Linked DNA regions of Homo sapiens. The protein of the gene in region 1 interacts with the protein of each later gene in a biochemical or structural test. Each region holds a gene or a part of one and is shown in the gene's direction. Other genes may lie near its edges.

Region 1 (4,677 bases):
TGAGCCAAGATTGCGCCACTGCACTCCAGCCTGGATGACACAGCGAGACTCTGACACACACACACAAAAAATAAAGTTTAAACTTCCCAAATCCTATGACATTGTACTATTATCATGGTAAAGAACACTGAGACAGAGGGACTAATAACTTGCCCAAGGGCACACAGCTCACAAATAGCAAAACGGTGGTCATGAGCTGAAAGACTTATGTGTTTCTGCTCTATGTGATAATATAGGGTGGTGCAAAAGTAATTTCAGTTTTTTCCACTACTTTTGAAGGCAAAAACTGCAATTACTTTTGCACCAGCCTAATATGTATGTTAGGTTCCCATTGCTGCTGTAACAAATTAATACAAACTTAGTGGCTTAAAACAACACCCGTCTATTCTCTAACAGTTCTGGGGATCAGTAGTCTGACCTCACTGGGCTCAAGATGTCAGCAGGGCTGGTTCCTTCTGGAGGCTTCAGGGGAGAATTCATTTTCTTGCCTTTTTTAGTTTCCAGAGGCTACAGCATTCCTTGGCTCATAGTCCCTTCCTGACATCTGTCCAAGCTCTTGTTTCCATCTTCACCTCTTCCACTTTGACCTTCCTACCTCCTTCTAACAAGAACTCAAGGGATTACACTGGGGCTACCTGGATCATCTGGAATAATCTCCCCGTCTCCAGATCCTTAACTTAATCACATCTCTAAAGTACCTTTTACCATGTAAGGTAACATATTCCCAGGTTCCAGGGTTTAGGGCATGACTATCTTGAGGGACCACTATTCAGCCTACCACAGCATGTTCACATTTCAATAACTGGACTGGATTTCTGGGTTTTTTTCCAGAAAAGTCATAGCCTGAGTTTTTATGAAAAAGTAAAAAGTATACTATGGTCTCTTGGCTTTTTGTAGGGTAGATGATAGAAAGATGGAACAATAGATCAGAAATAATGAAGATGATGATGATGATAGCCAACATTTGCAGAGTGTTCAGCTTCCAAGTAGTTTACAGGCATTACTTCTTTTAGCCGTCAGGCAATAGGATCAGGTAGGGAGGCGTGAGAACTATTCCCATTTTACAGATGAGAAAACTGAGGCATAGAGAGGTGACATAGTCACATGGCCAAGGTCTCACGGGTGGATGTGGTAGAGCCTGGATGAGAGCCCAGGATGCCTGGCTCCCACAGCCCACTCAGACCCTCGGGCACTTCTGCCCAGGTGTCAGGACGGTGCCAGCGGTAGCCTTACAGGGTGTCAGAGTGCTAATGCAAGGTGGCAGGCCTCCAAGATGCCATTCTGAGGGGTTTCTCTTTGGTCAATTCAGGAAGCTACTCTTTGTCCGTGCGAGACTACGACCCTCGGCAGGGAGATACCGTGAAACATTACAAGATCCGGACCCTGGACAACGGGGGCTTCTACATATCCCCCCGAAGCACCTTCAGCACTCTGCAGGAGCTGGTGGACCACTACAAGAGTGAGTCCCACCCCAGGGGTGACATCCCCACCACGATGGGCCCACAGACTCCTAGTCACGGATGCACTGTGGCCCCTGAGACCTGCTGTGTCCTTCTTGGCCATCCCCTAGACAGATAGTTGCTTTGGATGCTTCTGAAGGCTTAGGACTGTTGAGCAGGAGGGTGAGGTGGCCAAGATGTAGAGGTGGCACCCCGTCACACTCTGCTTGCTTGGGAATGTCTCTGATGGTGGCAACCAGGTGGAACACTGGAGAGATCCAGTGGACCAGGTAGGGCGGCCTCCAAGGAGCAACCTCTGGCTGGCTCGGTGCTTGTTGCTCTCAATTGACCAGGGACTCTGTTCCAGAGGGGAACGACGGGCTCTGCCAGAAACTGTCGGTGCCCTGCATGTCTTCCAAGCCCCAGAAGCCTTGGGAGAAAGATGCCTGGGAGATCCCTCGGGAATCCCTCAAGCTGGAGAAGAAACTTGGAGCTGGGCAGTTTGGGGAAGTCTGGATGGGTAAGGACCCAGGGCCACAGCCCACAGGGCCAGAGGGTGGAGGGGAGAGGGAGGCCACTTGCTTCCAGGAACACCTTATGGCAAAGCGGGAATGCTACCCAAGGCAGAGGGGGAGATTTAAATAATAGCCATAAAGAAGCAGTTCCCTGATAGCAAACCAAATTGTCTTGCTGTGCAAACACTGATTTGCCTTTGAGACCAGTCCTGTAGTGGTCAAAAACTTCCTTCTGGGAAGCAGGTGTCATGGATGAGGAATCCCTCCCTCATACGGAGTGGGGACTGCCTAACAGTTTGGGATTGAGATAACCAGAGACCTTTTCAGATGATGAAAATTAAGAATGGGGAAATGCAGCTTGGAGATTTCCAGGCAACTGATGAACAGGTTATTCTGAGCACCTGCTGTGTGCCCAGCACTGTTAGGGTCTTGTGGGAAAATCAGAAAGGCACATCTCACACCTGCTGATTTTCCCCAAGAACTTAAGAACAACACTGCCTGCTTTGCAGGGCTGTGGGGTAGATGCAGTGCCAGCCCAGTGTGGGGCAGCCTGCTGTGTTAATACGTTCCAAATGGGAGCGTTCCAAATGGGAGCGAAGACAACTTACAGGGATGCAAACAACTCAGCCAGATAAAATAAGTTTAAAATCCATGTATTTCGACTGTATTTATTGCGATTCTGCTGCATGCAAGGCCGGGCACAGTGGCTCACGCCTGTAATCCCAGCACTTTGGGAGGCCGAGGCAAGTGGATCAATCAAGGTCAGCAGTTCGAGAAAAACCTGGATAGTATAGTGAAATCCCGTCTCTACGAAAAAATACAACAATTAGCCAGGCGTGGTGGTGGGAGCCTGTAATCCCACCTACTCGGGAGGCTAAGGCAGGAGAATCGTTTGAACCCAGGAGGTGGAAGTTGCAGGGAACCGAGATCGCACCACTGCACTCCAGCCTGGGAGACAGAGTGAGACTCTGTCTAAAAAATAATAATAAAATTAAAAAGAATTTGACAAAAAAGAAAATATGGAGAGGAAGGTAAGACAGATCTGAGTGGTGAGATTTGAAAGCCAAAAATATCATATAAGACGCTAGACTCCTACTACAGGAAGCCCACGGTTCTGGATTGGAGCTTCCTGGAAGCCAAGGCAAAATGGAAACCCAAGCAATTATAAAATTGACAAGACCCACCAAATGAAGCAGGGTGGGGTGAGGGGAGGGAACAGCATGTGCCAAATCCCTGTGGTGGGAGGTGAGTTGGGTGCTTGAGGGACTGAGTGACCTGCAGGGTGACTGGCACATAAAAGGCAAGGGGAGTTTAGTGGCTGATGAGGCTAGAGGGGTGGACGAGGCTGGGTCATGTAGGGCCTGGGGGTCATAGTAAGTCTGGCATTTATTTAAGAGCAGTGTTAAGATTAAAGTGGGCGGTGTATGTGTGTGACATAACCTGAGTAGTGTTTTAAAGCTATTTTTATTTGTTTGGGTTTTTTGTTTGTTTGTTTGTTTGAGACAGAGTCTCGCTCTGTCACCCAGGCTGGAGTGCAGTGGCTCAATCTTGGCTCACTGCAAGCTCCGTCTCCTGGGTTCACACCATTCTCCTGCCTCAGCCTCCCCAGTAGCTGGGACTACAGGCGCCCACAACTGCGCCTGGCTAATTTTTTGTATTTTTAGTAGAGACGGGGTTTCACCGTGTTAGCCAGGATGGTCTCGATCTCCTGACCTTGTGATCCGCCCACCTCGGCCCCCCAAAGTGCTGAGATTACAGGCGTGAGCCACTTAGAGCTATTTTTAAATCCTTGCAACAGCACTTCAAAGGCAAAGCTTACCATTTCCACTTTACAGATGAGGAAGCTGAGGAAGCCACGGCTCAGAGACGTTAAGCCACTTGCCCTAGTGTGCACAGCTGGGAAGTGGTGAACCCGCCTTTCAACCCACAGTTGTCTGAGGCCTAAGCCCATGATTTCGCTTCCCTCTCTGAGAGTTGAGATGAGCAGGAAAGACTTTCTGGAGGAGGCGGGTCTGCAGCTGGGCCTTCTAGGGTGGTACGGGAGACCAGTGGGCTCTGACCACCTTCCCTGCTCTCTATCCCCCTCCAGCCACCTACAACAAGCACACCAAGGTGGCAGTGAAGACGATGAAGCCAGGGAGCATGTCGGTGGAGGCCTTCCTGGCAGAGGCCAACGTGATGAAAACTCTGCAGCATGACAAGCTGGTCAAACTTCATGCGGTGGTCACCAAGGAGCCCATCTACATCATCACGGAGTTCATGGCCAAAGGTGCTGCGTGCTGGGGCTGGGGGTGCAGGCTGTGGCCTATACTGGTCAATTGCGGGCCCAAGGGTGGCTTGGACATGGTTCTTGCCCTTGAGATGGCCCCAATCTGGCCAGGAGCTCTTCCAACAAGTACTCATTGAGAATCTAATGTGGAACAATCCAGCCCTCCTGGTTAGTGGGGTGAAATCATGTTAAGGGGTCACCAAGGGGAAGGGAGAACAAGGGGCTACCAGGAGAAGGGAATGGGGCCAGAATACTCCTGGGCAATGGGAGAAGGGGCTTATGGTTCACAGTGAGCCTTAGAGGCCAGGGTGTGGCATGGGTGGTGGGGGTGCCACTCTCCCGCATCAGCCACCTTCCCTGTACTTGCCAAAGCCCTGGGAGAGGGAGCTGGCAAAGCAGCAGTTCTGCCCCCACCCCCGCCCTGCCACAACTCAGGATTTCTTGGGGAATTTTT
Region 2 (4,677 bases), on another chromosome or scaffold:
AGGTCGTCGCCGAGAACCACGTGTCCTGGGGCAGGGCTTGAGGGAATTCAAGGGTCCCCAGAAACCATGTTGATTCAGGTTTTCTTTCACAGACCCAGTTAATGATTCTTTTTTTTTTTTTTGAAAGTCCCATTTGCCTTTGAAATCCCGGGTAGAGTGAGTGAGTGGGGAGGGGAAACGGCTCCTGGGGCTCGAGGACAGCTCAGGTCCCCTCCCTGGGGCACTTTGGGAGCCCACAAAAATGGAGCACAGCTTCCCTCAGGACCTGCCTAGTGCTGTTTCCGGACGCCCTGTTCTAGAAACATCTGGCTGCACCTGCAGCCACTGTAGCTGACAGGAGGGTTTGCTTCTCTGCTGGCCCTTGGATGCTGCCAGGGTCTGGTGCCCAACTCTCTGCACAGGCAGAGGCCGCAGAGGGGAGAGGGCGGGAGGGCGAAGGCCAGCCAGGCTCCTCCTGAGCTGGTGGCCACGCAGGTAGCCGAACGGTTCCCTCTGGCAGTGTTGACACAGGACGGTTCCATGGCCAGGGCCTCCAAGCACCTGGCCTGGTTGTGCTCCTTGTAAAATGTCAGGAAGCCGACTGATGGGCGTGCACTGACCTCACAGCCCACAGGCAGGTGCTCGGGGCCAGGCTCTGCTCCGTCTGCACTTCCGCGTCCCCAGGAGACAAACGCTGTCCCCATCGCCATTTCCCAGGGACCCCAACACCATCTTCCGAGGAAACTCACTGGCGTCCAAGTGCATCGACGAGACCATGAAGCTGGCGGGGATGCATTACCTGCATGTCACCCTGAAGCCCGCCATCGAGGAGGTGAGCACGGGGCCGAGAGTCCTCAGCCTCACGAGGCGTGGGGAGGATTTCCCCCAACAGAGGGCACTGCACTGGGATCCAGCCAGACCACGAGCTGGGCTTGAATGTCGGCCCCTCTGGCCTCGCCACGGGGATGCTGATTCATTCACTTTTATCAAGAGGATGTTCCCTGTGTACTCCAGAACCTTCCAAATTCTCCCAAATTAAAACTATACATAAGAAAATCCACCACTCCACAAAGGAGAACATGCAAGAAAAGCCTGGCTCTTCCCAGGGAGACCTTCTTTCTCCACATGTCCTGCAGTCCCCTGTGTTTGGGCCCTGGCTGCGTGGCATGTTTGAGCTGCACGCCCAGTCCTCACCCGACCCTCTGATGCCCGCACACCCACTCCTCACCTGACCCTCTGATGCCCGCCAGGCTGTGCCCCCCGTTTATGAGCGGGTTTGTAAACAGGTTCTTTGCAAATGTGAGAAAATTGAACATAGCATTCTGGTTTGCTCTGTGGGCAAAATCATGGCAGCATTTTGAAGTAAAAATATTATTAAAGCCCTGTGAGGCCTAGTCCGTGTGGGCTGGTGCACATCACTCCTGAGAAAGCCCGATTCGTCTGATCGCGGGCGCACATCGCTCCCTGAGAGAGCCCGGCTCGTCTGATCGCGGCCATGGACTGGGCCCCGTGCCTAGTGTTTGCGCCTGACCTCTCACTTGTCCCTCCGCAGCCAGTGACACAGGCCCAGGGTTGCCCCCTTGCAGCTGAGGCTCGGGACGACACCACCCCACGGTGGCCCTGCAGTCCGGCCTCACCGTGCCCCTCCGTGCCAGTGGCCGGGTTCGGGGAGCTGTCGTGGCATTTTCTGGATGAGGCTCAGGGTCTACATCTCAGCCAGGCCTGAGACCCCTTCCACCCTCCCTGCCTGTGCCCCCAGAACCCACTCACAGAGCCCTGTCTTAAACCTCTCCCCAGATATGCCAGAGCCACAAACCCTGTGAAATCGACCCTGTGAAGTTGAAAGACGGAGAAAACCTTGAAAACAACATGGTAGGTTTTGTTCATGAACCAACCAAAGCCAGTCACCTGCTTGGGGTTTTTCAGCCGATGGCTGCCTGGAAGCTCTGACTCACCCCGTGACCCCGGTTGGGGTGGGAGCAGGACCAGGCGTGGGGATACCCGCCTCACCCGGCTGCAGTACGCTGGCTGCACTACTGGGAGGCCTCAGCCACCACCTTTGGCCTGGCCTGTGTGCCGGGCTCTGCGTCCCCTGGGGGGTCCCGGCCAGCTCTTCCTCCCCTGGAGTGATCCGGTCTGCATGCCCCAGCTCTGCCCCCCCGGAGGGTCTGCCCTGCACACCCTGCTCTGCCTCCCCTGGACAATCCTGACCAGCTCTGCCTCCGCCCCGGCTCCTCCTTCCCTTGGGCAATGGCTCCTGCCCCTCCCTTTTCCTAGGACAGGATGGCCTCCCTGCCTCCCCAGGCTGTCCCCAGAGCTGTGTACTGCGTTTTAAAACAGCAAAACTCCCTGATGTTGAACTTGCTCCAACATTTTAGTCACTTCACATGATACTTCTTGCAGAGCGTGCTGTTTCGTCATTTCTGTATGTAAATGACAGAGCTCTTTGCCTTGGGCAGGCACATTCTAGTGAACGTCCATTCCCCACTCAGTAAACGAGGTCGGGGCCGAGCCGGGGAGCCGACGTGGTGCCTGTGTAGTGATTTTCACGCGTGAATTGCCACAGCTCCCAGCACAGATTTCCAGGGAGTGGCTGTTCACACGTGTCTCACTGCCGCAGCTGCCCTGCGCCCGCCCTCAGCCCCTCCCCACGCGCCCCTCCCTGGGCGTGCCCTGGTGCTACACGCACCTGTGGGCAGCCTCGGGAGTGGGTCCCAGTGCCGTGTCCCGTTGCAGGAGAACCTACGGCAGTATGTGGACCGCGTCTTCCACGCCATCACTGAGTCTGGGGTGAGCTGCCCGACCGTCATGTGTGACATCTTCTTCTCCCTCCGGGAGGCGGCGGCCAAGCGCTTCCAGGGTGAGTGCCCTGAACACCCTCATGTTGCTGAGAAACTGCCATAGCGCTGTGCAGGGTGACTCCCACCCAGGCAGAACCCCCCGCAGCCCTGGCTAGACTAGAACTGCGGGGTCGTGAACCCCAGTTCCGATGCTGGATTTTTCCGGGGTTTGTGCCCGGGCCAGTGTTCCCTAGTTCACAACCGCAGTGGTCTCTGGGGGACCCCAGCCCTGGAGTTCACCTCCACAGTAGTCTCCAGGGGACCCCAGCCCTGGAGATCACCACCGCAGTGGTCTCTAGAGGGGCCCAGCCCTGGAGTTCACGACCACAGTGGTCTCTGGGGGGGCCGGGAAGGGTGGCCAGGCTTTGTCGGGGTGGAATGTGAATTTTCCTGATGTGGACCCCTGGGTTTTCCCAGTGGTTTCTTTTTGTGGCCGACCCTGGCAGGGCCCAGAGTGGTGTTGGGGGCTCTGCCTGCCCGTGTCTTCGAAGAGACAGGACCCCTGGGGGAGCTGCCCTTTCTTCAAACCCCCAAGCCGGAGATCCCCTAGGGACCTGGGCATCCAGCACCCAAACCCCACTTCTCAACCTTGCCGACCCTCAGGGAGGAGCTGGGTGCCTGCACCCACCCATCACCTGCGATACTCAAGACCCCGCCAGGACTCAGGCTATGTATGGGGCGCTGAGAGGCTCAGCGAGGGCCTTGCTGCCGGCTCCTCTCTTCCTTGCGTGTCCTGTGGCCTCGGGACAGCTGCAGACACCCCGGGGTGGCCATGGTCCTGCAGAGCCGTCCACGCTTCTGTGTCCCCAGGAGACAAACGCTGTCCCCACCCCTGATTCTCAGGACATCAGACAGTCAGACAGCGCCGGCCGAGGGGCCCAGGGTTCTGGGGGAGGCAGTTCCCAAGCACATCCCAGCCCCAGACCCACTTTGAACAAGGTGGAAGTGAAGAGATAAAACACATCCTCTCACCCAGATGAGCACAGACCACTGTGGAATGAGACACCAAAGGGGCTGCGCTGTGTGGTGGTGATGAGAGATGGAGAGAAACAGGGAGAGATGGAGAGAGAGGCAGAGACAGAAGGAGAGAGACAGAGAGAGACAAGGAGAGAGAGAGAGAGACAGGGAGAGACGGAGAGAGAGGCAGAGACAGACGGAGAGAGAGGCAGAGACAGACGGAGAGAGAGATAGAGACGGAGAGAGAGAGATGGAGAGAGACAGAGACAGACGGAGAGAGATGGAGAGAGAGATCGAGACGGAGAGAGAGAGAGAGAGACAGAGAGATAGAGACAGGGAGAGAGAGACGGAGAGAGAGAGACAGAGAAAGAGAGAAAAAGAGAGAGACAGAGATAGGGAGAGAGACAGGGAGAGAGACAGAGAGATGGAGAGAGAGACAGACGGAGAGAAAGAGACGGGGAGAGAGAGATGGAGTTAGGGAGAGAGACAGAGAGGGAGAGAGACAGAGAGATGGAGAGAGAGAGAGAGAGCCAGAGACAGACGGACGGAGAGAGAGAGGGGGAGAGAGAGAGAGAGACAGAGATAGGGAGAGAGACAGGGAGAGGGACAAAGAGGGAGAGAGACAAAGAGATGGAGAGAGAGAGAGACAGATGGAGGGGGGGAGAGAGCCAGAGACGGAGAGAGAGAGAGAGAGACAGAGATAGGGAGAGAGACAGAGGGACAAAGAGAGGGAGAGAGACAGAGAGATGAGAGAGAGACAAATAGAGGGAGAGAGAGAGAGACAGAGATACGGAGAGAGACAGGGAGAGAGACAAAGGGGGAGAGACAGAGAGATGGAGAGAGAGAGGGAAACAGAGAGAGGGAGAGAGGGAAACAGAGAGAGGGAGAGAGACAGACACAG

The links.
Region 2: the proteins of HCK (region 1) and RASA3 form a complex in vitro, tested with the Homo sapiens proteins (one study listed by BioGRID).

The regions. Positions count from the first base shown.
Region 1 is NC_000020.11:32,082,585-32,087,261, forward strand, and holds part of HCK (tyrosine-protein kinase HCK), read left to right. Parts: intron 1-1,309; coding exon 1,310-1,459; intron 1,460-1,806; coding exon 1,807-1,959; intron 1,960-4,043; coding exon 4,044-4,223; intron 4,224-4,677. UniProt on the Homo sapiens protein: Non-receptor tyrosine-protein kinase found in hematopoietic cells that transmits signals from cell surface receptors and plays an important role in the regulation of innate immune responses, including neutrophil, monocyte, macrophage and mast cell functions, phagocytosis, cell survival and proliferation, cell adhesion and migration.
Region 2 is NC_000013.11:114,013,371-114,018,047, reverse strand, and holds part of RASA3 (ras GTPase-activating protein 3), read left to right. Parts: intron 1-696; coding exon 697-811; intron 812-1,776; coding exon 1,777-1,851; intron 1,852-2,715; coding exon 2,716-2,839; intron 2,840-4,677.